Linked DNA regions of Homo sapiens. The protein of the gene in region 1 interacts with the protein of each later gene in a pairwise test. Each region holds a gene or a part of one and is shown in the gene's direction. Other genes may lie near its edges.

Evidence for each region.
Region 2: the proteins of CTNNA3 (region 1) and EPS8 interact in a two-hybrid assay, tested with the Homo sapiens proteins (one large-scale study listed by BioGRID and IntAct).
Region 3: the proteins of CTNNA3 (region 1) and CDSN interact in a two-hybrid assay, tested with the Homo sapiens proteins (one large-scale study listed by BioGRID).
Region 4: the proteins of CTNNA3 (region 1) and AKAP9 interact in a two-hybrid assay, tested with the Homo sapiens proteins (one large-scale study listed by BioGRID).
Region 5: the proteins of CTNNA3 (region 1) and ZNF662 interact in binary tests that used the Homo sapiens proteins (3 or more experiments, as listed by UniProt).
Region 6: the proteins of CTNNA3 (region 1) and PPARA interact in a two-hybrid assay, tested with the Homo sapiens proteins (one large-scale study listed by BioGRID).
Region 7: the proteins of CTNNA3 (region 1) and PKP2 interact in a two-hybrid assay, tested with the Homo sapiens proteins (one study listed by IntAct).

The regions. Positions count from the first base shown.
Region 1 is NC_000010.11:67,686,196-67,690,287, reverse strand, and holds part of CTNNA3 (catenin alpha-3), read left to right. Parts: intron 1-4,092. UniProt on the Homo sapiens protein: May be involved in formation of stretch-resistant cell-cell adhesion complexes.
Region 2 is NC_000012.12:15,619,264-15,622,733, reverse strand, and holds the end of EPS8 (epidermal growth factor receptor kinase substrate 8), read left to right. Parts: intron 1-1,303; coding exon 1,304-1,417; 3' UTR 1,418-2,600; downstream 2,601-3,470. UniProt on the Homo sapiens protein: Signaling adapter that controls various cellular protrusions by regulating actin cytoskeleton dynamics and architecture. Depending on its association with other signal transducers, can regulate different processes.
Region 3 is NC_000006.12:31,117,220-31,121,875, reverse strand, and holds the start of CDSN (corneodesmosin precursor), read left to right. Parts: upstream 1-1,429; 5' UTR 1,430-1,456; coding exon 1,457-1,541; intron 1,542-4,346; coding exon 4,347-4,656. UniProt on the Homo sapiens protein: Important for the epidermal barrier integrity.
Region 4 is NC_000007.14:92,003,059-92,007,150, forward strand, and holds part of AKAP9 (A-kinase anchor protein 9), read left to right. Parts: coding exon 1-177; intron 178-4,092. UniProt on the Homo sapiens protein: Scaffolding protein that assembles several protein kinases and phosphatases on the centrosome and Golgi apparatus. Required to maintain the integrity of the Golgi apparatus. Required for microtubule nucleation at the cis-side of the Golgi apparatus.
Region 5 is NC_000003.12:42,912,486-42,916,577, forward strand, and holds part of ZNF662 (zinc finger protein 662), read left to right. Parts: intron 1-715; coding exon 716-817; intron 818-1,841; coding exon 1,842-2,869; 3' UTR 2,870-4,092. UniProt on the Homo sapiens protein: May be involved in transcriptional regulation.
Region 6 is NC_000022.11:46,219,930-46,224,021, forward strand, and holds part of PPARA (peroxisome proliferator-activated receptor alpha), read left to right. Parts: coding exon 1-85; intron 86-4,092. UniProt on the Homo sapiens protein: Ligand-activated transcription factor. Key regulator of lipid metabolism. Activated by the endogenous ligand 1-palmitoyl-2-oleoyl-sn-glycerol-3-phosphocholine (16:0/18:1-GPC). Activated by oleylethanolamide, a naturally occurring lipid that regulates satiety.
Region 7 is NC_000012.12:32,889,958-32,894,049, reverse strand, and holds part of PKP2 (plakophilin-2), read left to right. Parts: intron 1-4,092. UniProt on the Homo sapiens protein: A component of desmosome cell-cell junctions which are required for positive regulation of cellular adhesion.

The DNA.
Region 1 (4,092 bases):
AACACTCACCGTGAGGGTCTGTGGCTTCATTCCTGAAGTCAGCCAGATCATGAACCCACTGGGAGGAACAAACAACTCCAGACGTGCTGCCTTTAAGAGCCGTAACACTCACTGTGAAGGTCTGTGGCTTCACTCCTGAAGTCAGCAAGACCACGAACCCACCGGAAGGGAGTAACTCCGGACACATATGAACATCTGAAGGAATAAACTCCAGACACACCATCTTTAAGAGTGGTAACAGTCACCGTGGGGTCTGCGGCTTCATTCTTGAAGTCAGCGAGACCAAGAACCCACCAGAAGCAACCAATTCTGGACACATTTTGGCAACCCAGATGGGACTCTCGCCTATTGCCAAGTGATGAGTACCATCAGACCCCTTTTGCTTGCTATTCTGTCCTGTTTTTCCTTAGAATTCTGGGGGTAAATACTGGGCACCTGTCGGTCAGCTAAAAGCAACTAGCGCGGCCGCTGGACTAAAGACACAGGTGCCAGGCTTTCTGGGATAGGGCTCTCTAACAATCCCTGACTCTATGGAGTTGGGAATGTTGGTTTGCCTGGAGCCAGCTTCCACTTTAATGGTACTTCCAGGCTGAGCCGAGGGTTGACAGAGAGGAAAGCCATTCAGCTCCGGGGTCCCAACAACAAGTTGGTTGACCCTGCGGCCATGAGTGGAACTCTCAAAATCATGTCACCCAAGCGAGACTTGCCCATCTATCCTATCTCCTGACCCTTGCCTCCTGGGTCCTAATGCCTGTCAGACAAACTTCCTCTCGCCTCTCTTCTCTGAGGCTAGTCCACTTCTAAAAAGCACTCCCTGTCTCTGGTGCTTTTCTAGTTTCTCCTATAAGAATGATTTCTAGTATAAACTTCAGGACTCTTTTACCTTCTTTAGGCACCCGGGCTCACCAATCAGAAAGACATAATTTTTGCCCAAAGTCCCATCTGGGCAAGGGACTATCTGGAATTTTAGGATCCCTCTTCAGACAAGCAGGCCTAACAAAAGCTATTCCTGAAGCTAGGATATGGGGAGCTTCGGAAATGGTATCTTTCCTATTCATATAAGTGAGGACAAAAAGCATCACTCTTCCAACTCTGGAGATCCTTTCCCTCTCTCAGGGTATGTCCGTCCAGTTCATTTTTGGGGCATAACATCTTTATAGGACAGTGGTAAGGTCCCAATACTAACAGGATAATGCTTAGGACTCTAACAGCTTTTTGAGAATGCATCGGTAAGGGCCACTAAATCCAATTTTTCTTGGTCCTCTTTGTGGTCTAAGAGGACAGGCAAGAATGCAGGTTTTTGAGAATGCATCAGTAAGGGCCACTAAATCTGACCTTCCTCGGTCCTCTTTTTGGTCTAAGAGGAAAACTAGTGTTTCTGATGCTGCGTCGGTGAGCACAACTATTCTGATCAGCAGGGTCCAGGGACCGTTGCGGGTTCTTGGGCAAGAGGTGTTTCTGTTGCTGCATCAGTAAGTGCAACTATTCCAATCAGCAGGGTCCAGGGACTATTGTGGGTTCTTGGGGAGGGGTAGAAACAAACCAAGACCAAGGGTGGTTTTGTCTTTCAGATGGGAAACACTCAGGCATCAACAGGCTCACCCTTGAAATGCATCCTAAGCCATTGGGACCAATTTGACCTGCAAACCCTGAAAAAGAGGCAGCTAACTTTTTTCTGCACTATGGCCTGGCCCCAATATTCTCTCTCTGATGGGAAAGATGGCCACCTGAAGGAAGTATAAAGTACAATCCTATCCTGCAGCTTGACTTTTTCTGTAAGAAGGAAGGCAAATGGAGTGAAATACCTTATGTCCAAGCTTTCTTTTCATTGAAGGAGAATACACAACTATGCAAAACTTGCAATTTACATCCCACAGGAGGACCTCTCAGCTTACCTCCATATCCTAGCCTCCCTATAGCTCCCCTTCCTATTAATGATAAGCCTCCTCTAATCTCCCCCACCCAGAAGGAAACAAACAAAGAAATCTCCAAAGGACCACAAAAACCCCTGAGCTATCATTTATGTCCCCTTCAAGCTGTAGGGGGAGGGGAATTTGGCCCAACCCGGGTACATGTCCCCTTCTCCCTCTCTGATTTAAAGCAGATCAAGGCAGATCTGGGGAAGTTTTCAGATGATCCTGTTAGGTATATAGATGTCTTACAGGGTCTAGGGCAAACCTTTGACCTCACTTGGAGAGATATCATGCTATTAGGTCAAACTCTGGCCTTTAATGAAAAGAATGTGGCTTTAGTTGCAGCCCGAGAGTTTGGAGATACCTGGTATCTTAGTCAAGTAAATGATAGAATGACAGTCGAAGAAAGGGGCAAATTCCCTACTGGTCAGCAAGCCATCCCCAGTATGGATCCCCACTGGGACCTCGACTCAGATCATGGGGACTGGAGTTGCAAACATCTGTTGACCTGTGTTTTAGAAGGACTAAGGAGAATTAGGAAAAAGCCTGTGAATTATTCAATGATGTCCACCGTAACTCAGGGAAAGGAAGAAAATCCTTCTGCCTTCCTCGAACAGCTATGGGAGGCCTTAAGAAAATATACTCTCCTGTCACCCGACCCACTCGAGGGTCAATTGATTCTAAAAGATAAGTTTATTACCTAATCAGCCACAGATATCAGGAGAAAGCTCCAAAAGCGAGCCTTGCGCCCTGAACAAAATCTGGAGGCATTATTAAACCTGGCAACCTCGGTGTTCTATAATAGGGACCAAGAGAAACAGGCCCAAAAAGAAAAGCAAGATCAGAGAAAGGCCACAGCCTTAGTCATGGCCCTCAGACAAACAAACCTTGGTGGTTCAGAGAGGACAGAAAATAGAGCAGGTCAATCACCTGGTAGGGCTTGTATTCAGTATGGTTTGCAAGGACACTTTAAAAAAGATTGTCCTACTAGAAATAAGCTGCTCCCTCACCCATGTCCACTATGCGGAGGCAATCACTGGAAGGCTCACTGCCCCAGAGTACAATGGTTCTCTGGGCCAGAAGCCCCCAACCAGATGATCCAACAACAGGACTGAGGATGCCCGGGGCAAGTGCCAGCTCATGTCATCACCCTCACTGAGCCCCGGGTATGTTTAACCATTGAGGGCCAGGAAATTGATTTCCTCCTGGACACTGGCATGGCCTTCTCAGTGTTAATCTCCTGTCCTGGACAGCTGTCCTCAAGGTCCGTTACCATCTGAGGAATCCTGGGATGGCCTGTAACCAGGTATTTCTCCCACCTCCTCAGTTGTAACTGGGAGACTTTGCTCTTTTCACATGCCTTTCTTGTTGTGTCTGAAAGTCCCACACCCTTATTAGGGAGGGACATATTAGCCAAAGCTGGAGCTATTATCTATGAATATGGGGAACAAGTTACCCATTTGTTGTCCCCTGCTTGAGGAGGGAATCAACCCTGAAGTCTGGGCATTGGAAGGAACAAACTCAAGGTCCATCCTTAAGCCTTCCCACAGGACAAAACTTTTCTTTATACATCACAAAGAGAGCAGGAATAGCTCTTGGGGTCCTTACTCAGACTCATGGGACAACCCCACAATCAGTGACATACCTAAGTAAGGAAATTGATATAGTAGCAAAAGTCTGGCCTCACTGTTTACAGGTAGTTGTGGCGGTGGCTGTCTTAGTGTCAGAGGCTATCAAAATAATACAAGGAAAGGATCTCACTGTCTGGACTACTCACAATGTAAATGGCATACTAGGTGCCAAAGGAAGTTTATGGTTATCAGACAACCGCCTGCTTAGATACCAGGCGCTACTCCTTGAGGGACCAGTGCTTCAAGTGCATACATGTGTGGCCCTCAGCCCTGCCACTTTTCTACCAGAGGATGAGGAGCTGGTCAAGCATGGCTACCAACAGGTTATAGTCCAGACTTATGCCACCCAAGATGATCTCTTAGAAGTCCCCTTAGCTAATCCTGACCTTAACCTATATACCGATGAAAGTTCATTTGTGGAGAATGGGATACGAAGGGCAGGTTATGCCATAGTAACAGTACTTGAAACTAAGCCTCTTCCCCCAGGGACCAGCACCCAGTTAGCAGAACTAGTGGCACTTACCCAAGCCTTAGAACTGGGAAAGGGA
Region 2 (3,470 bases), on another chromosome or scaffold:
GTTAGGTCTAGTAATACATCTCAATAATCGGGAAAGATACATTAGGTAGAGATCACTGAAAATAGAGAGCCTGGAAAAGTATTTAATCACAATGGTCTGTATGAAAGCAGGAGAGTCATGTTTTCTAGATTGCTTTATACTTAAGCTTCCAATATCCTATTTTAGACTTAAAATGTGCTATATACGGGTAGTAGTTTCCAACTGTTACATCTCACAGCTCTTAATAGTTTCATGAAAATTATACTTGGACTCAAATGAAAGAATGTAGGCTTTGGCATGAAATTGATCCATAATCATCTCTAGCAGGTATATTCTATAAATTCAACAGTTAAATAATTCAGGGTAAAATCACTTCATGCGTATCACCCCGTAGCCATTCTGAATCAAGAGAAACCATATTTCCCTTGGAGGTTTTCCCTACAACATTGATCTTGAAGGCTCCATATTAAAGTTTGATTTGATTGCTTTCCATATGTTGAATATTAATAAGGATTATATATTTTTCTCAAGCAGTTTTATTACCACTATATTTAATTTTGTTGAGAGTATATAATTACTTCTTCAAGGTATGTTAGAAAATGCCATATTCCTAAAATTCTGAATTCCTTCATCCCACACCTGCCTATCATTATTGTCATTTGCTGTCACCACCCACTTCAGGATGGTCTCTTGCTTCTTGTTCTCTTCCTATTCTCTGCATGGGAACTGAGGCAGAGGCTGACTACCTGAGGTTCTTCATGTTCCTCAGCCACCTTCTACCACCTCACCCTTTCCTTGGATCTAGTTAATCTTTTAGATTATTTGCCTGTGTTGCCAGAGACTTCTGTTGATGGGAAAGGAGAAAAGCCAGCATGGTCGGAGGGTCAGAACTATATGGAGGGGAAACTGGGTGAATTCTGAGCCCACTCTGGCCTGAGTTAAAATCTTCTAAAGGCAGATCAGTATCTTGTTTGAGCCCAAAAGAGTCCTTTGATAATTTACCATGTTATTATGCTTATTGTACACATTTCCTCTTTCTCTCAGCAAACCTAGAGTACTATACATACATTATTGATTTATCTTTATCATGTTCAAATGAAAGGCCTGGTGAGTGAATTGCCTTAACAGACTTTACAAAATGAAAAATTATTAATGTGATATATTAGTGAAGTGCAGAAGCTTCACTTAAAAAGTAGAGCTGTTAGCTTTCCTAAAGAGATACTAGAAGAAAACCACAGTAGAATTTTATCCTGAGCCATTTCATGATATGACCTGCAGCCTGCACAAGTCAGTAACTATCTTGTCTGAACTGTTTATCTTTCAGGATAGCAGTGGCAGCTCCGAGTTACAAGAAATTATGAGAAGACGACAGGAAAAAATCAGTGCTGCCGCTAGTGATTCAGGAGTGGAATCTTTTGATGAAGGAAGCAGTCACTAATTTGTTTGTTTGTATTTAAACTCCATTGTTTTTGGCATTATTCCAACATGCTTTGTTTTAAGAAGCCTTGAAGGGAATGTCAGATTCATTTTTCTTGATGTAATTTATCACCATAAAAAAAAACCCATGCAAACCTGAGTGAGCACAGGATTTGCTTCTAGGCCCATTATTTTTATTAAAACTGAAAAAATTTAAACTGAATTTTTTGACCTTGGAAAATATTTTTCTTACTTTACCAAGGTGAAGTTTCCTTAATTAGACTAATTATTTTATCCCCATCCCAGGGTATAAACAGGAATTGTTTTGATAGTGGTGGAGTTATTCACTGCAACAAAGCAACAATGTTGTCCATGATTCAAAATCTAAGCAGTTTCGATTTTGCCTGTGAATATGGTGTCTGTCATTCAGGGCATAGCTCACTGTAGGCTAGCCTCTGCTTACTTAAGTCTCTTCTCTGACATACTCAATGGAAGAATATTTAGATTTATTTAAAGTTCTTAATGCCAACAGTTTAAAAAAAAATTAAAACATTTGAATGAACTGTAAAGTACAGCCATACCTTGGACATGCAAATATAAATCTATGGAGCATTCTCAAGAGAGTTTGTCATGGCTCTGTTGATTGCAACTCCTTGTATAGCTTGTATTTTGATTTAGTTTATATTCTGCTTATTATGTATACTGTGTTCTTATATATGAGAAAGCACAAATGCGAAAGAGGTCATGTCTTCTCAAAATCTAGCAAAGGAAGTAGTCTGCATTGGTGTGCATTACAGTATTTTGCTTAATGAAAGCCTCAGTTCTGAATGTTGATATGAGTAGTTAAAAGGAAGTGGGGCCATTTTATGTGTTTATCTGTGTCAAGTATTTCTGGTAATAAGAAGCACTTAATTTACACATATTTTAATCCTGTGAAAGATTCCACATAGAGAAAAGAAAGATACCTAACCTTCAACAAATGTTATTTTTGGAAACACAATTTTTGTCATTAAATGTTATATTATTTCACATATATAAAACAGATGTTATGTAAGAATGTTGTATATTTTAACATAAATCATTTAGAGAAATTATCTAGATTCATTAATTTTCATAGTGCCTTTTTCACATGAGTCAGCTGGAAAGTCTGCAATAAACAGTATTTGCTGTCTGTTAATAAATGGTTTCTGTCTCATTAGCAAAAAGGATCTGTGCTAGATCGGCTGAGGATTCGAGTTGAATGCAATGGGAAAAAGTAGAGATCCACATTTTAAAAAAACTATATATTATTCTATTTCTGAGTGGGTAGAGAAACTCTAGAATACTTTTTTCGGTTGTTTTTCTTCTTTTCGCCTCTTGTTTCATCATCTTTTCCTTCTACCATCTAGTCATATTTGGTAATGGTAATGGAACTAATTTACACTGCGCTTACGATTGCTAAATGCTTCCATATAAATGCTTTCCTGGATATTTACAACAACTCTATATGAATTATTACAGATGAGGAGATTTAGCTTCCTAGAAGCTAATTTTCCCCAGATCCTGAAGGATGTGGGAGTTTCTCATCTTCTATCTCTCGGTCTCTCTATAACACTGCCCTTTGGATAAAGTGGAACAAACATGAGCATGATAAAGGTGAATTAGTTTAGATCTTTTACATTTCATAAGGACTGATACATATGTATAATTTAGCCTTTATTGAAAGGGATAAGATGAAAGAAAATAAGATCCAAAAGTTAAGATAACCTGCGTGTAAAATAGCAGACGGATATGAAAAGAATTGGTGTAATTTACATCTTTATGCTATAAGATGCCAAAGGAATGTATCACAGAGGTAGTAATTGCAGAAAGCAGTCACATCAGCTAAGGATGTGGGGACAAAGAGAAGAGGTTCCTGGAATTTAGAATCTTGAGGGAGCAGCACCACAGAATTTGGATCCAGACATCTGAGGGGTTTGGTCACTGGTATCTGAGGATTTGAGGAAAGACCCCACAAAGCTAACAGGGGGACACAGCCTAATCAGTGTTTTTGCCTCAGGTATTCAGAAAAGATTTCAGGAATTGAACAACAGGTC
Region 3 (4,656 bases), on another chromosome or scaffold:
TAAAGCTCCAAATCTTTGGTGGTTAAACTTGCTCCATGTGGCCAGTGGCTACCGTATCGGACAGCACAGACAGGAAACATTTCCATCCTCCTGCTGGTCTGAACTTAAAGGGCGGTCAGGAGGTAGAGGGAATGGGAGAGACCAGGCCAAGGGGCCCAGGGACAGAGCTGCCTTTGTGAGGAGATGAGGTTTGGGAAGTGAGTTTGGGTGAGGGGAGCAGGGGTGTCTGAGGCCTGGGGGAGGAGAGGGCAGCTTGCTGGACTCCCAGGCACCTCCCTCCGATACTGATACTCCCGCAATACTAGTGAGCAATTAATTGGCTGGGGCGGGGCAGGGGCCAGAGCAGGAGGGAGGCCAACGCAATGGAGGAGAAGCCACCACCCTCTCAGCAGATGGCAGGGCTCCGGTTCTCCTGGCCTCCTTTCATCCTTTGAGGACCCGGGAGCCTGCCTGGCCCTCCTCGACCTGCCCAGAGCTGGCTGCTGCTTCCTGCTCGCTCATCCAGCCCAGGGCCAGCAGATGGGCTATGGGGCCACCACCTTCCCAATTAGCCTTCTTAGCCTCTTGCTCACCCTTGAGGTCTGGGTTACCAGCCATGGGGAGGGGCTGTGAGTGCCCTGTGAGTAACCAAGGCCCAGCTTTGACAGAGGTCATCAGCCCAGGCCCCTCCCCTGGCTGAGCCCTGGCTCCCAGCACCCCCCCACCCCCGCCACCATGCCGTCCCCAGAGGCCCCCAGAAGCGACAGGTCAGGGAGTTGGTTTTGGGAATGTGGTGCCCCATTTCTGAGAAGGAGAAAGTTCCCCAGGTGATGGAACACGTAATAGGTATGTGGCTGGCCTGGTACTTGGGGAGTGGTGGGAGGGGGAGCCTGGGGGATGGGGGCAGAACTCATATTTGAAGGAGGAAAGTGGAGGTGGAGTGATGGGGTCCTAAGGAAGGAGCAGATCAGGGGCTGTGAATGGGACCTCATTGGGGTTGGGTGGGTGGGGCTGGAGCGGGCACCCAAGTGTGGAAGAAAAAGCTGAAACACCCACGACTGCGAGTGGAGGGCAGATGGAGAGACAGGCCAAGCTACGGTAGGCAGGAGAGTTAAGGAGCCAGGCAGCTGGGTCCCGTGGCAAGAGTGGCCGCCCCAGAGTGGGTGGCCGTGGGGCAGAGCGCCTGGTTCCGGGTTAGGCAATGAGGAGCCGGGGCCAGGCCTGTCAGGTGGCAGGATCGTTAGAGCCCCGTGGCCATGGGTACCCCACACTGCAGCCACTGCTGCTGCTGAGTAGGCAGATGCACCGGGCTGATTACCACGCTCCTCCCGGCCACACCAACTTCCCCTGGGGCACCCACCCCCTCCACCTCTCCTCCTCTCCCCACAGTGACTCCTGCCCAGGGAATGTCCAGCTCTGGCATAAAGGACCCGGGTGTCCTTGAGCTGCCATCAGTCAGGAGGCCGTGCAGTCCGAGATGGGCTCGTCTCGGGCACCCTGGATGGGGCGTGTGGGTGGGCACGGGATGATGGCACTGCTGCTGGCTGGTCTCCTCCTGCCAGGTAGGAGGCTGGGGGCCCTGGGAACAGGAGGGAGGCGGGAGGGAGACTCCGGGAGAGGACCCAGCGAAGGGGACAGGCAGGGGCTCTGGAATCTGCCTTTTGAGTCTGGGGGTTGCTCCTCACTGTATGGTCGCCTCAGGTAAGTTTCTTAAACTTCCTGAGCCCCAGTTTCTGAAACTCTGAAGTGGGGTTAATGACACCTAACTCTAGTCTGTGTGTCTCAAATTAAATAATGTATGTGATATGTACTTTGGAAATTCTAGAGGTTTATATAAATGGTGGTGGTGATTTTTATTATGGGAGCACTACAAGATAATGATTGGACATTTAATAGTAATAATATCATTTTTAGAGCCTTTTTATATGCTAGACTCTGTTTTAAGCACATTTGGATTATATATTAGAACTTTTATTTTTATTTTTTTTTGTGAGATGGAGTCCCACTCTGTCTCCAAGGCTGGAGTGCAGTGGCGTAATCTCGGCTCACTGCAACTTCCACCTCTCAGGTTCAAGCGACTCTCATGCCTCAGCCTCTAGAGTAGCTGGGACTACAGGTGCCCATCACCACACCTGGCTAATTTTCTTTTTTTTGTATTTTTAGTAGAAACAGGGTTTCACCATTTTGGTCAAGCTGGTCTTGAACTCCTGACTCAAGTGATCCGCTCGCCTCAGCCTCCCAAGGTGCTGGGATTACAGGCATGAGCCACCACACCCGGCCTATATTAGCACTTTTGATCATTACAAGAACGGTATGAAAGGAGATTTGCTATTTCCACTCTACAGATGAGGACACTGAGGCTCAGAGAAGTTAGGAAAGTAGCTCAAGATCATGCATTAGAAGGCAGCAAAGCCAAGATTTCAACCCCAGGCCGGGCAACCCCTGGACCTGTGTTGTTGACCACCGGGTACTTATAGCCCTTGAGGAATTTCTGCGACCTTCCCATGGTCTAGTGGGTGGTTGGTGTCTGAGGGAATAGCGAAAGAGAGAGGCAATGCATGGTGGATTCGTGCAGAGGACTGAAGGGAATTGGCACAGCTGGGGTTCGGCGTGGAGGTGCATGCAGAGAATTTCTTTCTGAGGAGAGAACAGGGACATCACAGAGGATGGCAGTCTGGTTGTTGGTGGAGGGATCAGGATGAGTGGCAGTAATAATTCATAATATATAATGCTTTACACTTTCTAAAACATCTGGCCGCACATGATAGCTTGTGCCTGTAATCCCAACATTTCAGGAGGCCAAGGCAGGTGAATCGCCTGAGGTTAGGAGTTCAAGACCAGCCTGGCCAAGATGGTGAAACCCCCTCTCTACTAAAAATACAAAAAATTAGCTGGGTGTGGTGGCGGGCACCTGTGGTCCCAGCTACTTGGGAGGCTGAGGCAGGAGAATCGCTTGCACCAAGGAGGCAGAGGTTACAGTGAGCTGAGACCGTGTTATTGCACTTTAGCCTGGGCAACAAGAAACTCCATCTCACAAAAAAAAAAAAAAAAAAGAAGAAGAAGAAAAAACTTCCAGGTGGATGATCTCATTTAGTTTTCTTCATAGTAATGCTGTGGGAAGGCAGGGAAAATTTGGCCCCTCTGAATGTATAAACTAAAGCTCAGAGAGGTTCAGTAACTTGCTAGTATGTGGCTCTGTTTGTAACACGTGGGACCTGGAGGGGCTAGGGAAGGCAGAAGGAACGCAGGTGAAAGAGTCATGGAGGAACCACGGGGTAAGTTGGGCCTGGGGTTTTGAGCAAAGGAAAGGAAAGATAAGGAAAGATGTGGCTCCACATCCCTGAGGGAAGTCAAGGCAGCAGAAGTCAGATGAGGGGCTGGACAGAGGCAGGTGTGCTCAGAGAGGGAAGCTGATTGTGGCCAGGAGCCTCGGAGGTTCGTGGGGTTTCGTCCTGGTTCCCTGGGCTGGGCCAGCGAGAGCAGGGCTGGCTCAGGGTGCGGTGTCCTGACACACTGGTACCAGCAGGTTCTGAAGCAACAGGTAGTGACCCCACATCCTGGCCCCCACCCAGCTTTACTGGCATGGCCAGTGCTGAGATAGGAAATAGGGTTTCCATTCCTGACCCCAGCCTGGGCTCTCACGAAGAAGCTGGTGACCAAATCTTAGTCCTCGAGTGCCCTTTCCTTTATTTCAGCCCCTCTGCCCCCAGCTTTGTCTTTTTCCAGTGTCTCCTTCTATATGTGTCTCCACTTCTCAGCCCTCCATTGTTTTGCCTTTTGTCTTCTTCCCTTTGGTCCCACTGTCTGGCCCAGGATTTTTCCCCTAAGAATTTACGCCTGGACTCCTCAGAGCCTCAGTTTCCCCAATTCTCTGTCTCTTCAGGGTCCTTTCTTTTAGACCTACTTGTTCCTGCCCCTTCTCCATTCCCTCTTCTTTTTAAAAAAAATTTTAATTAAAAAACAAAATACAGACGGGGTCTATGTTGCCCAGGCTGGTCTTGAACTCTGGGGCGCATGCAATCCTCCCACCTCGGCCTCCCAAAGTGCTGGGATTACCGGCGTGAGCCACTGTGCCCAGCCCCCTCTTATATTCAATGTATTCCTTTGAGGCCACTCACTTTGGCACCTAATTTTCTATTTTTCTGGTTGGTGTTTGCCCACCCTTCCCAAACAAAGAAATGCCTTTATTCGGCCACCTCAATATCCTTTAGAGACAATAGCCAGTTCTTCCTCCTTTCTCCATCCCTAAACTCTCCCTGCGCTCTGCTTGGGAGAAACCCGAGAGGCCGATGACTGAGATAAGGCAGAAAGGTGAGGGAGGAAGCCAAGCCTCCTTGGCCCTTACTAACCACTGCTTTCCTCCACAGGGACCTTGGCTAAGAGCATTGGCACCTTCTCAGACCCTTGTAAGGACCCCACGCGTATCACCTCCCCTAACGACCCCTGCCTCACTGGGAAGGGTGACTCCAGCGGTTTCAGTAGCTACAGTGGCTCCAGCAGTTCTGGCAGCTCCATTTCCAGTGCCAGAAGCTCTGGTGGTGGCTCCAGTGGTAGCTCCAGCGGATCCAGCATTGCCCAGGGTGGTTCTGCAGGATCTTTTAAGCCAGGAACGGGGTATTCCCAGGTCAGCTACTCCTCCGGATCTGGCTCTAGTCTACAAGGTGCATCCGGTTCCTC
Region 4 (4,092 bases), on another chromosome or scaffold:
ATAATGGTGGAAGATAAAGTTTCTTTTGAAAATATGACTGTTGGAGAAGAAAGTAAGCAAGAACAGTTGATTTTGGATCACTTACCATCTGTAACAAAGGAATCATCACTTAGAGCAACTCAACCAAGTGAAAATGATAAACTTCAGAAAGAACTCAATGTACTTAAATCAGAACAGGTATGTTTACTTCTTCATATATGGTAAAGCACAATGAAAAAAATGTACATTTCACACTAAGGTTTCACCTTCATAGAACATAAGTTCATATCCTTACAAGAGAATGAAAATGAACCCTCTGATGTAATTTTAACTTGAGCCTATCATTTATTTATCATTTAAGTACTTTTTTTTTTAAACCATTGTTGCCTTTCTTTCAGTTAATCTATCTTGTATATTCTGCTCAGGAAATAAAACACTAATGGATTCAGATTTTCTTTGGAAAGACAAGAGTTTGTATAACTTTATGGAGAATCTCAGCATTAGAAAAGTTATTAATTTCATTTTGTAATTTTTGTTATAATCTCAAAGATTGGTTTCAGCGTTTTTATTTCATAGTGATGTTTTCAAGTCTCTACAACTGAAAATGAACTCCTAAGCTTTTTAATAGTCTCTATAGTTGTTAGGTGGTTATGAAATTATATTTTCCTGGGAGAAAAAAAAACCTTTGATTTAAGTCCTAGAGTTTTTTCAGAGTCTTTATTATACCTGAAGGGGAAAAAACAGTATTAACTCTAAATATAGTTAAAGAATTATATGTATATAATAATAGATCACTCCTGATAATTTATATTTGCCAGATACTGATATTAAAATAACAGGAAAATTCTGCTATCTACAATGTAATGGTGCTAACTAAAGTTTTATGTGTTTCTTCATTTTTCTAACATATTTATTGACTCTCTTGGCAAGTACGAATATAGTGGCCAACAAGAGAGAGGTTTCTGGTCTCAAAGAGCATATATTTTAGTGAGGGAGGCAGATGATAAATGAAACAAGTAGGATAGTGAGAAATAGTGATAAATTCTCTGAAGAAATAAAACAGGATAATGTGATAGGGAATGATGGAATTATTTCTGAGGGCTCTGTTCTGTTCCATTGGTCTATATCTCTGTTTTGGTACCAGTACCATGCTGTTTTGGTTACTGTAGCCTTGTAGTATAGTTTGAAGTCAGGTAGCGTGATGCCTCCAGCTTTGTTCTCTTGGCTTAGGATTGACTTGGCAATGTGGGCTCTTTTTTGGTTCCTTATGAACTTTAAAGTAGTTTTTTCCAATTCTGTGAAGAAAGTCATTTCTGTGAAGAAAGTCATTCCTGATGGGAATGGCATTGAATCTATAAATTACCTTGGGCAGTATGGCCATTTTCACAATATTGATTCTTCCTATCCATGAGCATGGAATGTTCTTCCATTTGTTTGTATCCTCTTTTATTTCGTTGAGCAGTCGTTTGTAGTTCTCCTTGAAGAGGCCCTTCATATCCCTTGTAAGTTGGATTCCTAGGTATTTTATTCTCATTGAAGCAATTGTGAATGGGAGTTCACTCATGATTTGGCTCTCTGTTCGTCTGTTGTTGGTGTATAAGAATGCTTGTGATTTTTGCACATTGATTTTGTATCCTGAGACTTTGCTGAAGTTGCTTATCAGCTTAAGGAGATTTTGGGCTGAGACGATGGGGTTTTCTAGATATACAATCACGTCATCTGCAAACAGGGACAATTTGACTTCCTCTTTTCCTAATTGAATACCCTTTATTTCTTTCTCCTGCCTGATTTCCCTGGCCAGAACTTCCAACACTATGTTGAATAGGAGTGGTGAGAGAGGGCATCCCTGTCTTGTGCCAGTTTTCAAAGGGAATGCTTCCGGTTTTTGTCCATTCAGTATGATATTGGCTGTGGGTTTGTCATAAATAGCTCTTACTATTTTGAGATATGCCCCATCAGTACCTAATTTATTGAGAGTTTTTAGCATGAAGTGCTGTTGAATTTTGTCCAAGGCCTTTTCTGCATCTATTGAGATAATCATGTGGTTTTTGTCTTTGGTTCTGTTTATATGCTGGATTACACTTACTGATTTGCGTATGTTGAACCAGCCTTGCATCCCAGGGATGAAGCCCACTTGATCATGGTGGATGAGCTTTCTGATGTGCTGCTGCATTTGGTTTGCCAGTATTTTATTGAGGATTTTTGCATCGATGTTCATCAGGATATTGGGAATGTTGGAGAGGGTAGTAACAACATTAAATATGGTGGTCAGGAAACATCTCTAGGAGGAATTGACATTTGAGCTGAAATCTGAATGACATTGAAATTAGAGCAATTGTAAAGACACGGGTAAGTTTAAAGAACAGAATGAAGGCTTGTGTAGTTGAGTTTGAGAGAGCGGGAGAGTGGAAGAAGAGTTTGAAGGAGGAAGAGACCAGACCTTGGAGAATCTTGCAGACTTTGGAAGCCATTGGAAAGTTTTCTCTTTTTATTCCTAAATATATCATATTTATGATCTTATATCAAATGTCGAGATATTTTATATTTATGATTTATATCAAATGTAGAGATATTTTATATATTTACTTGCCTAAATAGAGTCAAGAAATTCGAATTGCTTAACGATTTTTTTGTTTGTTTGTTTTTGAGACCGAGTCTCACTCTGTCACCCGGGCTGGAGTGCAGTGGCGTGATCTCAGCTCACTACAACCTCCGCCTCCCGGGTTCAATCAATTCTCCTGCCTCAGCCTCCTGAGTAGCTGGGATTACAGGCATGCACCACCACCACGCCTGGGTAATTTTTGTATTTTTAGTAGAGACAAGGTTTCACCATGTTGGCCAGTTTGGTCTCAAACTCCTGACCTTAGGTGATCCAACAGCCTCGGCCTCCCAAAGTGCTGGGATTACAGGCGTGAGCCACCATGCCTGGCCAAATTGCTTAACTGTTAATGTTCTGTTAAATGTCTGGAATTGTTTTCAAAACCAAAATGTATGGCAGTTACTTGTGAAAATGTCACACATCTTTTAAAATTTTTTAGGAAGCATTTTTGGGAGAAGACCTGAATTTGACCCTCAGATGGTCAAATTTTCTTATTAGGAATTCTAATTTTCTTTTTCTTTTTCTTTTTTTTTTGAGACAGGCTCTCACTGCCGTCCAGGCTAGAGTCTCATGGCGCAATCACAGCATCCTGCAGCCTTGACCTCCTGGACTCAGGTGATCCTCTCACCTCAGCCTCCTGAGTAGCTAGTATTACAGGCATGCACCACACACCCAGCTAGGTTTTTGTATTTTTTGTAGAGACAGGGATTTGCCATGTTGCCCAGGCTGGTCTCAAACTTCTGGGCTTAAATGATCTTCTTGCCTTGGCCTCCTGAAATGCTGGGATTACAGGCATGAGTCTTTGTCACCAGCCAGAATTCTATTTTCTGTACTAAAGAGATACTAAAAAGATACTTTTGATGGCATTCAGATTCCCTCTATTTGACATTGACTACATAAAGTAAAGCCTGTAAACTTCCTGCCCGTTCATCATTACCAAGACAAACCTTTATTGATGGGAAGGGAAGTTCACAGAAGAAATCGAGCAGTGACTTACACAATAGTAACACCTAAGAGCAGCCTAAATATGCTTGAAATAATGTGGATGCCACACAGATATCTCTAATACACTTAGGTAGTTTGGGCAGAAGGAGAAAAATAAAAACATCATAGAAGTCTTTTCAGTGTTGGGATGCAAGGAAGAAGGAAGAGTGGCAGGAATTTTTTAGATACTGATTAATTATTGATGCTGGGAGAGGTCATAGATTGAAGTGTATGTGTTTAAAATTGAAGATGATTATTAGAATCAAAAGAGATACCGGAGCTTAGAAACTACAGGAGGAACCACTAGAATATCAGCTCCTTGAGAACAGGGACCCAGTCTCCTGTATCTCTAATGCCTAGAATAATGTCTGACACATGATAGGCAGTTAATAATTTTTTTAAATGAATGAATGAATTCATGAATAAAAGGGGGGGAATAAATAAAGCCCACTTACCAAGAACCAACAGTGAAATAGCACAGGCCTTCATGTTAGAGTCAGGAAGAAGATCAGAATAGCTTTTGTCACTTG
Region 5 (4,092 bases), on another chromosome or scaffold:
AATATATATTTATATATTATATATTTGTATATTTAATATATAAATACATATATTTATATATTTAATATAAATATATATATAAATACATATTTTATATATAAATATATTTATATAAAATACAAATATTTTTCTATAAAATATATATTTATATATTTTATATATATATAAATATATATATATATTTTTTATATATATAAATATATATATATTTTATATATATAAATATATATATATATTTTTTATATATATAAATATATATATATATATTTTTTGAGACACAGTCTCACTCTGTCGCCCAGGCTGGAGAGCAGTGACACAGTCTCGGCTCACTGCAACCTCTGCCTCCCGGGTTCAAGCGATTCTCCTGCCTCAGCCTCCTGAGGAGCTGTGACCACAGGTGTGTGCCACCATGCTTGGCTAATTTTTTTTGTATTTTTAATGGAGATGGGGTTTCACCATGTTGGCCAGGCTAGTCTTGAACTCCTGACCTCAGGTGATCCACCCACCTCGGCCTCCCAAAGTGCTGGGAATACAGGTGTGAGCCACCACGCCCAGCCTATCCTTATTATTCTGTACCATCAAATTTCTGCTTATCTATGTTACCAATCTTTTCACCCACCTTTATTCTCTCCCTACCACTTCCATGTCTGCTCTTTTCCTGATGGGCCTCACTCTTCTGACTGAGTCAGCCTTATTTGTATCTTGACCCTGGCAGGATATCCATTTCTAAAGCCTGCTGGGATTTCCCATCCTGAGCAGGTGGAAGAGCCATTAAACCTGAAACTGCAAGGAGAGGGTCCAAGCCTGATTTGTCCGGGTAAGTGAGAGGGAAATGAGCATTCTTCTCTCAGTCACATCTTTTCCTATCTTTCTTTTATAAGATGTAAAAGTCCATTTTGCCATTCATGTTCTAAACAAATATGGGGACCAGATCCTTAAATCAACCAATTAAGAGAAAACTTAAACCCTAAGCTTCCAACTTTCATTAGGACAAGCTCAATTAATTAAATTAATTAAATTAGGATGGGTCTTTTGCGTTAGACTTAAACTGAACAGATGGCCTGCCCCATCTAGCTGCTATGATCACCCAATATTTTTAATGTAGATGCTGTATTTTACTCATTGTGTTAGTTGTTAGAGATAAAAAAAATCAAGTCATATATGGCCCTTATCCTGGAAGGACTCACAGTCTCATGGGACATGATACATAAATGTATAATTACAGAAAAATGATGAAACTGTAACAGAATGTGAATAAGACACTATGAGAACAAAGAGGAGGGAGTCTTTTCCGAGTTCTGCCTGGAGTAGTTTGAGAAAGCACTTCCCATGGTTTCATGGTGAACTTGGTGCTTGGATTGAAAGAGAAGACTATACTTCCTTTTAGTGTTGAAAAGTATGAGGAAGCTCATTCTTGCTACTGTCTGCTGCATGTGACAAGCCCAGGTTCTCAGGTATACCACTAAGGATTCCTTATTTCTGAACAGGTCCTCTGCCCTAAGTCCTGGCCTGTTCTTCTCATGGTATAAACTGTACTCAGCTACCTAGGAGGAATTCTGACTTTGTTTTCCTTAGATTCAATTCACCTGTTTTCTGAGAGCCTACCCTGGTCCTTGGTTTGGTGCCAGGAATCATAGCCCGCAGGGATTCTATCTAGTTGCTGTCTTTACTTTTGGTTTCTTTCTGTGTATTAGCCTTGTTTTTGCCATTTTCAGCTGGGACAGGGCCACTGAGACATGGGTGGCACTTGGAGAGAAGTGGACGTATTAATACCACTTGGTGACCTTAGTCGCTGTGTCATGGATAATGATGACATTTGAAGCTCCAATTTCTTTTTTCAGAGGGTGTGTTGAAGAGGAAGAAAGAAGATTTTATTCTGAAGGAGGAAATTATTGAGGAAGCACAGGACCTCATGGTCCTATCAAGTGGACCCCAGTGGTGTGGATCCCAGGAATTATGGTTTGGGAAAACCTGTGAAGAGAAAAGCAGGTTAGGGAGATGGCCTGGTTACCTCAATGGGGGACGTATGGAAAGTTCTACAAATGATATTATAGAAGTGATTGTCAAGGATGAGATGATCTCAGTAGAAGAGAGTTCAGGGAATACTGATGTCAATAACCTCCTTGGTATACATCACAAAATTCTAAATGAGCAAATATTCTATATATGTGAGGAATGCGGCAAGTGTTTTGATCAAAATGAGGACTTTGATCAACACCAGAAAACTCATAATGGAGAGAAGGTCTATGGATGTAAGGAATGTGGGAAGGCTTTCAGTTTTCGATCACATTGCATTGCACATCAGAGAATTCACAGTGGGGTGAAACCCTATGAATGTCAAGAATGTGCTAAGGCCTTTGTTTGGAAGTCAAACCTGATTCGTCACCAGAGAATACATACTGGAGAGAAACCCTTTGAATGTAAGGAATGTGGGAAGGGCTTTAGTCAGAACACAAGCCTTACGCAACATCAACGGATCCACACTGGTGAGAAACCATACACATGTAAGGAATGTGGGAAAAGCTTTACTCGAAACCCAGCCCTTCTTCGACATCAGAGAATGCACACTGGGGAGAAGCCTTACGAATGTAAGGACTGTGGGAAGGGCTTCATGTGGAACTCAGATCTTTCTCAGCACCAGAGGGTCCACACTGGGGACAAGCCTCATGAATGTACTGACTGTGGGAAAAGCTTCTTTTGCAAGGCACATCTTATTCGACATCAAAGAATCCATACTGGGGAAAGACCCTATAAATGTAATGACTGTGGGAAGGCCTTCAGTCAGAATTCTGTCTTAATTAAGCACCAGAGGCGCCATGCTAGAGACAAACCCTATAACTGTCAGATCTCTCACCTTCTTGAACATTAGAGAGTGCATAATGGTGATACTTGTTTATAATTCTTATGCTGCAGGAACCCTAGAGACAAAATGAGATGACCATTCACAATTTGCTGTAACCCTTAACTTAAATAGCCAGTATTATCTTGCCCTTTTGAACATTTACCATGTACTCTAGCAAGACTGGTCCCTCTGTTCTATGATGTTTTAACAAGGCATCATTTAGTTGGGCAGCTACTCTGTATCAGGTGCTAACCACTTTACATACATTAATTTGCATAACAATCCTATTAAGGTAGGTGCTCTTCTCCCCATTTTACAAATGAGAAATCTGAGTTGAAAGAGGTTATAAAACTCATTCAGGGTTGCTCAGTTAGTAAGTTATAGAGTTGAAATTGGAGCCAGGCCTATCTGACTGCAGAGTTTACTGTTCTTTACTTAATTGTACATATTTATGTCTCTGCCCATTTTTATTTGCTTATTTTCCTGTGCTTTTAGTTTCCCTTCATCACTCAGATCTAGCTCCTTCAACTAAGAAGATCTCTCTTCCTCTTCTACTTGTAATCAGTACCACCCAAGTTAGTATTTAATTATGTGCCATCTTATATTTTTCTAATAGTCTCATGTCTTTTAATCTTAACCCCAGCTAAATGACTCTGAGGACCAACAGTACATTTCTTTTATGTTTTTCAAATCCTGAAACATTAATCTTTGACTAGATATAACATGCTCATGATAAAAAAGAATTGAAATAGTTGAAAAGGGTGTTCAGTGAAAAGTAAATTTCCTTGTCATTCCTATCTCTTGAGTTCTCCCCAGAGGCAATCACTGCTACTGGTTGTGTATCTCTGTAGATACTCTTTGTATACAAGTGTTTATTAGTATTGCTTTTCATAATTCTGTCTCACTGAAAACCTTATTTGATGGAAGCAACATTGCAGTTAAATTGTGAACTCTAAGACCTTTTCTTCAGAAGTTGCTTTCCTTTTGAGGCCACCAAAGTAATTTAGGGAAACAGCAGAGGGTAATCCAGGTCTTTTTTTTTTTTTTTTTTTTTTTAGACAGAGTCTCACTCTGTTGCTCTGGCTGGAGTGCAGTGGTGCTATCTCAGCTCACTGCAAGCTCCACCTCCTGGGTTCATGCCATTCTTCTGCCTCAGCCTCCCAAGTAGCTGGGACTACAGGTGCCCGCCACCATGCCTGGCTAATATTTTTTATTTTTAGTAGAGACGGGGTTTCACCATGTTAGCCAGG
Region 6 (4,092 bases), on another chromosome or scaffold:
AATCTACGAGGCCTACTTGAAGAACTTCAACATGAACAAGGTCAAAGCCCGGGTCATCCTCTCAGGAAAGGCCAGTAACAATCCAGTAGGTGTTTGCGGCTGTTCTGGGTTCTCTTGGCAACATGGAACCAGTGTCGTAGAGGACGATTAAGGACACATGTGTTGAATGTTGAGAAAATTATATTTATCCCACAGTTAAGCAAAGGACAGCGAAGATGGAAACAGTTCATTCTGAGACTCTGAGCTGTAGCTTAACAACAACTCCTTTCTTCTTGCTTGGAGCCACCTCAAAGCTCTTAGCAACTAAGTTATTATACTGGCTATGTAATTAATACACTTAAAAAAAACCTTAATAGCTTACCAAGTACTAAGATGATTTCTTAGGAGCATTTTTTCTTAAATAGAGATAGGTTCTTGCTCTGTTGCCCAGGCTGGAATGCAGTGGTGCAATCATAGTTCACTGCAGCCTTGAACTCCTGGGCTCAAGCAATCCTCCTGCCTCAGCCTCCCAAGGAGCTGGGACTACAGGTGTGCACCACCACACCTGGCTATGTTTGATGTTGTTGTTGTTTTGTTTTGTTTTTGTTTTTTGGTAGAGATGAGATGTTTCCCAGGCTGGTCTCAAACTCCTGGCCTCAAGTGATCTTCCCACCTCGGCCTCCCAAAGCACTGGCATTACAGGTGTGAGTCATGGCACCCAGCATTAACTGGATTTAAAAAAAAAAAAACTGACCAGGCAAGATGGGTCATGCCTGTAATCCTGGCACTCTGGGGAGGCCAAGGTGGGCAGATTGCTTGAGTCCAGGAGTTTGATACCAGCCTGGCCAACATGGAGAAACCCCAACTCTACTAAAGATACAAAAATTAGCTGAGCAGGGTGGCACACACCTGTAATTCCAGCTACTTGGGTGGCTTAGGCATGAGAATTGCTTCAACCCGGGAGGCAGAGGTTACAGCAAGCTGAGATCATGCCACTGCACTCCAGCCTGGGTGACAGATCGAGACCCTATCTCAAAAAAAAAATAGAATAATAAAATAAATCCCTACTTTGAGGTGTATTAGTCTGCTATAAAGAAATCCCTGAGACCTGGTAATTTATAAAGAAAAGAGGTTTAATTGGCTCGTGGCCCACAAGGCTGTACAGGAAGCTTCTGCTTCTGGGGAGGCCTCAGGGAATTTGACTCATAGCAGAAGGTGAAGTGGGAGTAGGCGTCTTGCATGGCAGGAGCAAAAACAAGAGACACACACTTTTCACCCATCAGATCTTGTGAGAACGCTATCACTAGAGTAGCACCAAGAGGATGGTGCTAAACCATTCATGAAGGATCACCCCCATGATCCAGTCCCTCCCGCCAGGCCTCACCTCCACCACTGGGGATTACAGTTCACCATGAGATTTGGGTGGGGACACAGAGCCAAACCATATCATAAGGCTAGAAAAGGAAACCACTTACTTCCCACTCAAAATGTGCTCTTGGTCCTTTCTCCTAAAACTACTCCCTCCCTCTCAGACAAACATGCCTACATTCTTTTTCCGCCTTCAGTGAAAAGACAGTGACATCTTGGGGCTTAGAAAGGGCCACTTGTAAGCCAGGCGTGGTGGCTCACGCCTGTCATCCCAGCACTTTGGGAGGCCAAGACAGGCGGATCACGAGGTCAGGAGATCAAGACCATCCTGGCTAACATGGTGAAACACCATCTCCACTAAAAATACAAAAAATTAGCCGGGCGTGGTGGCGGGCGCCTGTAGTCTCAGCTACTTGGGAAGCTGAGGCAGGAGAATGGCGTGAACCCAGGAGGCAGAGCTTGCAGTGAGCCGAGATCGTGCCACTGCACTTCCAGCCTGGGCGACAAAGCCAGCTGTGTCTGGGCGCGGTGGCTCATGTCTGTAATCCCAGCACTTTGGGAGGCTGAGGTGGGTGGATCACTTGAGGTCAGGAGTTTGAGACCACCCTGGCCAACATGGTGAAACCCCATCTCTATTAAAAATACAAAAAATTAGCTGGGCATGGTAGCGGTTGCCTGTAATCCCAGCTACTTGGGAGGCTGAGGCAGGAGAATTGCTTGAACCTGGGAGCTGGAGGTTGCAGTGAGCTGAGATCGCACCACTGCACTCCAGCTTGGGCAACAGAGTGAGACTCTGTCTCAAAAAAAAAAAGAAAGGAAAAGAAAGGACCACTTGTTATAGAAAGCCTGTCTTTTAAGGTAGCTCTGGACCTTTTCAGAGGCAGCCAAATTGCCCCTCATGGTTCGTCCCCCACATCCCCGCCTGCCTGGCCTAAGTCCTCCTTCCCCCTCCCCAACAGTTAAATAAGTCTTTGTCTCCATTACAAAACAAATCTCAGAGCTACCTTCAAAGAAGAGCCAGCCCTCAGTTGGTGAATGAAGATACTTTGACATTTTCCTATGAGCATGGTGAAACAGGTTTAATTTGTATTAAATAGCTTGAAGCAATCCTTATTGGGAATTACAAGGTGGAATTTTAGTCACAGGAAAATAAAGCATTTCACAAGCTACTTACTTTCATGAACAAACCAAACCTCTTCTTTACTGAGTCCTTTAATTCTTCAGTGAATTCTCCAATTAAATAGGCCGAGACATTTTAGAAGTTTCCAGCAGACACCCACACTAGGCAGCTCCAGAGGCTTGTCCCAATTAGAACTTTCCTGGATTACGAGAGTGAAAGAAAAGGTAACTTTTAGCTTCGAGTCTCTATCCTGGATATGATTAGTACAGCCCAAAATTGGGATGGCTAAAACTTTTGTTTGCCAGCTTATATTTCTCCCTTGGATTTCAGAATTGAAAGCAGGCTGGGCACAGTGGCTCACACTGTAATCCCAGCACTTTGGGAGGCTGAGGCGGGAGGATCACTTGAGGCAATCCAAGAGTTTGAGACCAGGCAACACAAGGAGACCTCGTCTCTACAAAAAATGATTTTTTAAAAAACTAGCTGGGCATGGTGGCATGTGCCTGTGGTCCCAGGTACTTGGGAAGCTGAGATGGGAGGATGGCTTGAGCCCAGGAGTTCAAAACCAACCTGGGCAACATGGCAAGACCACATCTCTACAAAAAATAAAAACATTATCCAGGCATGGTGGCACATGCCTATAGTCCCCGCGACTTGGGAGGTTGAGGAGGATGCCTTGAGGCCAGGAGTTCAAGGCTGCAGCGAGCCACGATCGCGCCACTGCACTCCAGCCTAGGCGACAAAGCGAGACTCTCTAAAAAAAATTCGAAGCAGAGTTAAGTTGTCTTTCTTCCTAACAACCTGCCCCCACCATGGGGTGCGAATGGGACTCCTGGAGTCCTCCTGCACCTCCCCTTGGAGACCACCAAGCTCTAGGAACCCCATCACCCTCAGCTGAGGGTCACATGCAGCAACTAGCAGGCGGGAATCTGTTTGCATTTTGGCCTTAAAGAAATAAATAATAGGCCAGGCGCGGTGGCTCATGCCTGTAATCCCAGCACTTTGGGAGGCTGAGGCAGGTGGATCACCTGAGGTCAGGAGTTGGAGACCAGCCTGACCAATATGGTGAAACCCCGTCTCTACTAAAAATACAAAAATTAGCTAGGCATGGTCGTGGGCACCTGTAATCCCAACTACCCAGGAGGCTGAGGCAGGAGAATTGCTTGAACCTGGAAGGCAGAGGTTGCAGTGAGCCGAGATCACACCACTGCACTCCAGCCTGGGTGACAGAGCGAGACTCCATCTCAAAAAAAAAAAAAAAAGAGGGCCAGGCGTGGTTGCTCATGCTTATGCCTGTAATCCCAGCACTGTGGGAGGCAGAGGAGGGCGGATTACCTGAGCTCAGGAGTTCGAGACCAGCCTGGGCAACATGGTAAAACCCCATCTCTACTAAAATACAAAAAATTAGCCGGGCATGGCAGTGTGCGCCTGTAGTCCCATCTATTCGGGAGGCTGAGGCAGGAGAATGGCGTGAACCTGGGAGGTGGAGGTTGCAGGGAGCCGAGATCACACCGGTGCACTCCAGCCTGGGTGACAGAGTGAGACTCCATCTCAAAAAAAAAAAAAAAGAAAGAAATGATAGATGAATAGTTTAGGATTGGGGTTCACAATTTGGTTTTCTGTAG
Region 7 (4,092 bases), on another chromosome or scaffold:
TACTCGGAAGGCTGAGGCAGGAGAATCGCTTGAACCCGGGAGGTAGAAGTTGCAGTGAGCGGAGATCTCGCCATTGCACTCCAGCCTGAGCAACAAGAGCGAAACGCCATCTCAAAAAAAAAAAAAAAAAAAAAAAAAGTAAGTTACTCCTGGTGGCAGGAAATTTTGAAAAGCTTCCTGGAGGTAGATCTCAAAAATTCAGTAGGACTGGACATAGGGAGGTGACTGGAGAAAGATCATTCTAGGAGGGAACAGAATGAATATTTCACAGTTCACAGAGTTGATATGGTAGAACAAAGGGCACTATCTTGGTCCTTCTGCTATAATGCTTGGGTCAACTACTTGACTGGCTGTTCCAACTAAGGAACAAAGCGTTTGAAATATTTTGATTGCAACAGCAGCTTTCCAGTAAGCTGAAATACACTCTGCAGCCTACACAGAAGTACAAATCAGACAGAGAGATAAGGCAGCAAACAACACCTACTTACTTTAAAGCCTCAGCTTTCTAAGACTCAAAAAGGAAATCAGCTTCAAAGGAATTTAACATTAGCATGCCATGAAACAATTACCAGGGGTGGTTCGTATGTATTGTTTAATTAAACTTCTTTGAAAAGGTCTGGGGGCTCGTGGTGGTTCTGAGTATAATTTTTATTATTTCCATGTTACTATCCTGTCTCTCAAGTTGAAACAGACAAGCAATTGTTGAAACAGTGCTGGTCTGGAAAAAATCCTGTATCAACACAAGAAATTCCAGGAAGAAAAGACCCTGATGTTAACTGCTATTAGCTCCAGGGCCCTGGAGAATTCTGAGTTGTTGACAAACCTGTAAGGTTGAGACAGCGGATAACCTGCTGAAAGCAGAGATGAGATAAATGTGGCTGATTTGTTGATAAGTATCTTGCAAGAGTCTTTAACCCTTTGTCTTCTTTCCAATGCCTTAGTATAGCTGGGTGGTTTTCATTGTAAATCACTCAGTGACTTTTGGTGTTATTTTTAACTGTGCTGAACATTTTAAAGTTGGCTGTAACTCTTTGGGAAGGGGCCTTCAGAGGTGTATAGCAGCATTGTGAAGTAAGTCTGTATTGTAGCTAATAGTTAAAATATTTTTCTAAAATAGAAGACATTTAAGAATTGCAAGTATTGGCAAAGGGAAAAATTAAAAGCATCCATATCCTATTTATTACACTTGCCTTAAAAGTACTACTTGCTACACAGTTCTCCCCCCCCCCCCGCCCCCACCCCAGGTATCTGAGTGGAGAGAAAATTGTGTTTTAAATTGTATTTACTACTTATAAAGGACAGTGAACAATCTCCTAATGCAATTATATTTACAACCTCTTTGGAAATCCACCACAAAACTTGAGGCACACTATTATCTTAGGTGATTTCCTTGGTGAAGCTGCTTTTCAATATCTGTGATCAAAGTGAATTCTGGGCTGGGCGCAGTGACTCATGCCTGTAGTCTCACCATTTTAGGAGGCCGAGACGGGTGGATTACCTGAGGTCAGGAGTTTGAGATCAGCCTGGCCAACATGGTGAAACCCTGTGTCTACTAAAAATAAAAAACAAATTAGCCAGGTGTGGTGGTGCATACCTGTAATCCCAGCTACTAGGGAGCCTGAGGCAGGAGAATTGCTTGAACCTGGGAGTCAGAGGTTTCAGTGAGCCAAGATCATGCCACTGCCTCCAGCCTGGGCGATGGAGTGAGACTCCATCTCAAAAAAAAAAAAAAAAGTGAATTCTGGAGAGAGAATTGAAAATTGGCTCAGGGTAGCAAAAGAAAGGTAGTTACTAGGCGCTACTGTTAAAAAAAAGTTAGACATTGTTCAAATTCTGCATAAATTCTTCCTTTGACAAAAAGGAATCCCAGGAATGAAGCAATTCTGGGGAGCAAGGTGACTAATCGTTCAGAAAGTAGGAGGGATCAGGAAAGGGAAAAAAAAGAGTGAGATGGCGGGTGGCAGGGTCATGGCCCTCTGCTCTGAATGTGAGGTGTCAGTAGCACACTGGATTAAATGCACCTCTGTGTCTGTGTAATATGGCCTGTGAGCCACTTTTTGTCCAGGGCCAAGCAGATTGAGTTCGGTAAGTCCAAAAATAATTAAAGAAATCCTTCTGATTATAGTAAGTGAAATAGAATGTTAACAAAATGGTAGTTAACAACAACAACAAAAAAAACTTCACACCCCTGGAAATGTTGAGAACACATCTCTTAGGGGTGAAGTTTTGTGTGAGGGTAAAGTAAGGATGCTTCAGAATCCGTGGAACTGTAAGAAACCACAAGTAGACCCAGAGTAGCAGGGTTTGATTATGAAAGTACATTGTTCTATATGTGACAGATAAGACGCAGGAAATTACCTTAAAGGAAGGAAGACTGTTCATTTAGGCTTTTAAAAGACTGTTGTTATCTGTATGCCCTGTGCTAAGAGTTCCACAGTCATGGGAACAGAGGGTAGCTTTTGTATTAAATATTCTAGGTATTTGTAGTTCACATTTCCTCAAAGTTTTAGATAGCAACTTTACAGTTTTTTCTCATTTATTAAAATAAGCCTATACATAGTTACATTATTTTATCTTCACATTTTAACATTGATTTTACCCTACAATTGAATTCCTAGTCTGATCAATACAAATTATTAAAAGTTTTGATTTTTTTTCTCTGAGAGAACAAGCATATTATTGGCAAACTATGATAGTAATGAAATATAATAAATATGATGCTAAAACCTCTGGAGTTTATAAATCAGATGATTAATATGGCCTATAAGATGATTTATTTCCATCTCAGATGACATTCAACAAGTTTAAATTATACAATTCTGAGACAAATGTTGGACTTCAGGTATCTTGTGCATGTCTACAAATATATGAAGATAAATACCCTACTTCTCCTGAGGAAGTAAATTAGCAGTAAAAGGCAGCAATGCAAGTGGGAATAGACAATAAATTAGGAGAAAACTTTATTTTTCTATTAGAGTGAGCCACCTGGCTCCCCTGACTAGTAGAGTAAGACTACTAAACAAACTATCAAGTGCTCTCATAATAAAAACATTAAAAACCTGTTGTGTGTCTTTTCTTTTCTTTTTTTTTTTTTTTTGTTTCGCTCTTGTTGCCCAGGCTGGAGTGCGGTGGTACGATCTCGGCTCACTGCAACCTCTGCCTCCCGAGTTCAAGCGATTTTCCTGCCTCAGCCTCCCGAGTAGCTGGGATTACAGGCACCCGCCACCAAGCCCAGCTAATTTTTTGTATTTTTAGTAGAGACAGGGTTTCACCATGTTGGCCAGGATGGTCTCGAACTCCTGACCTCAGGTGATCCGCCCACCTCTGCCTCCCAAAGTGCTGGGATCTCAGGCGTGAGCCACCGCACCCGGCCTGTGTATCTTTTCTATAATGCCATTTCTGGTAATTGGATATTGGACATAAAAACAGTTGTAATGTTCTTAAAGTGTTTAAAGACAAAAGCTTGAGAGCTCAATATGTAGATTTAAATAAAAATGGACAGTTGGAAAAAAAGAAACTTAAGCATTTGAAAACACAACCTGCCATTACTATTAAAATAATTCACATATTTATATTCTTGGAATAATCAGCTTTAGACTTAATAACATTCGTTAACCTAAGCAGTCATAATCAAAGTTCTGCAATTCCTTGATTTCCAGAATTTGTGGATGAAAACCTTCATTAGAAGCTTAATGGATTATTTTTTCTGAATCTCTCAGTAAGCTATTTATGGGGTGGGTGTGGGTGAGCATCAAGCTTATTGGATCTTGATTACTCTTTTTCATTGAAGAATGAAAACAAATGGGAACTTTTCTTGACAGATAATATGAATTTATAGGCCACCAAAATATTACAGATAAATACACAAGCCATACAGATAAAAGAATGATAGTAAACATATATTATTCAAATATAGAAACAACCTTGCCAAAATGAACAAAGTCAGCTTTTCTTTTTTTTTTTTTTTTTTTTTTTGAGATGGAGTCTCGCTCTATGCCCAGGCTGGAGTGCGGTGGCACAATCTCGGCTCACTGCAACCTCCGTCTCCTCGGGTTCAAGCGATTCTCCTGCCTCAGCCTCTCAAGTAAGTGG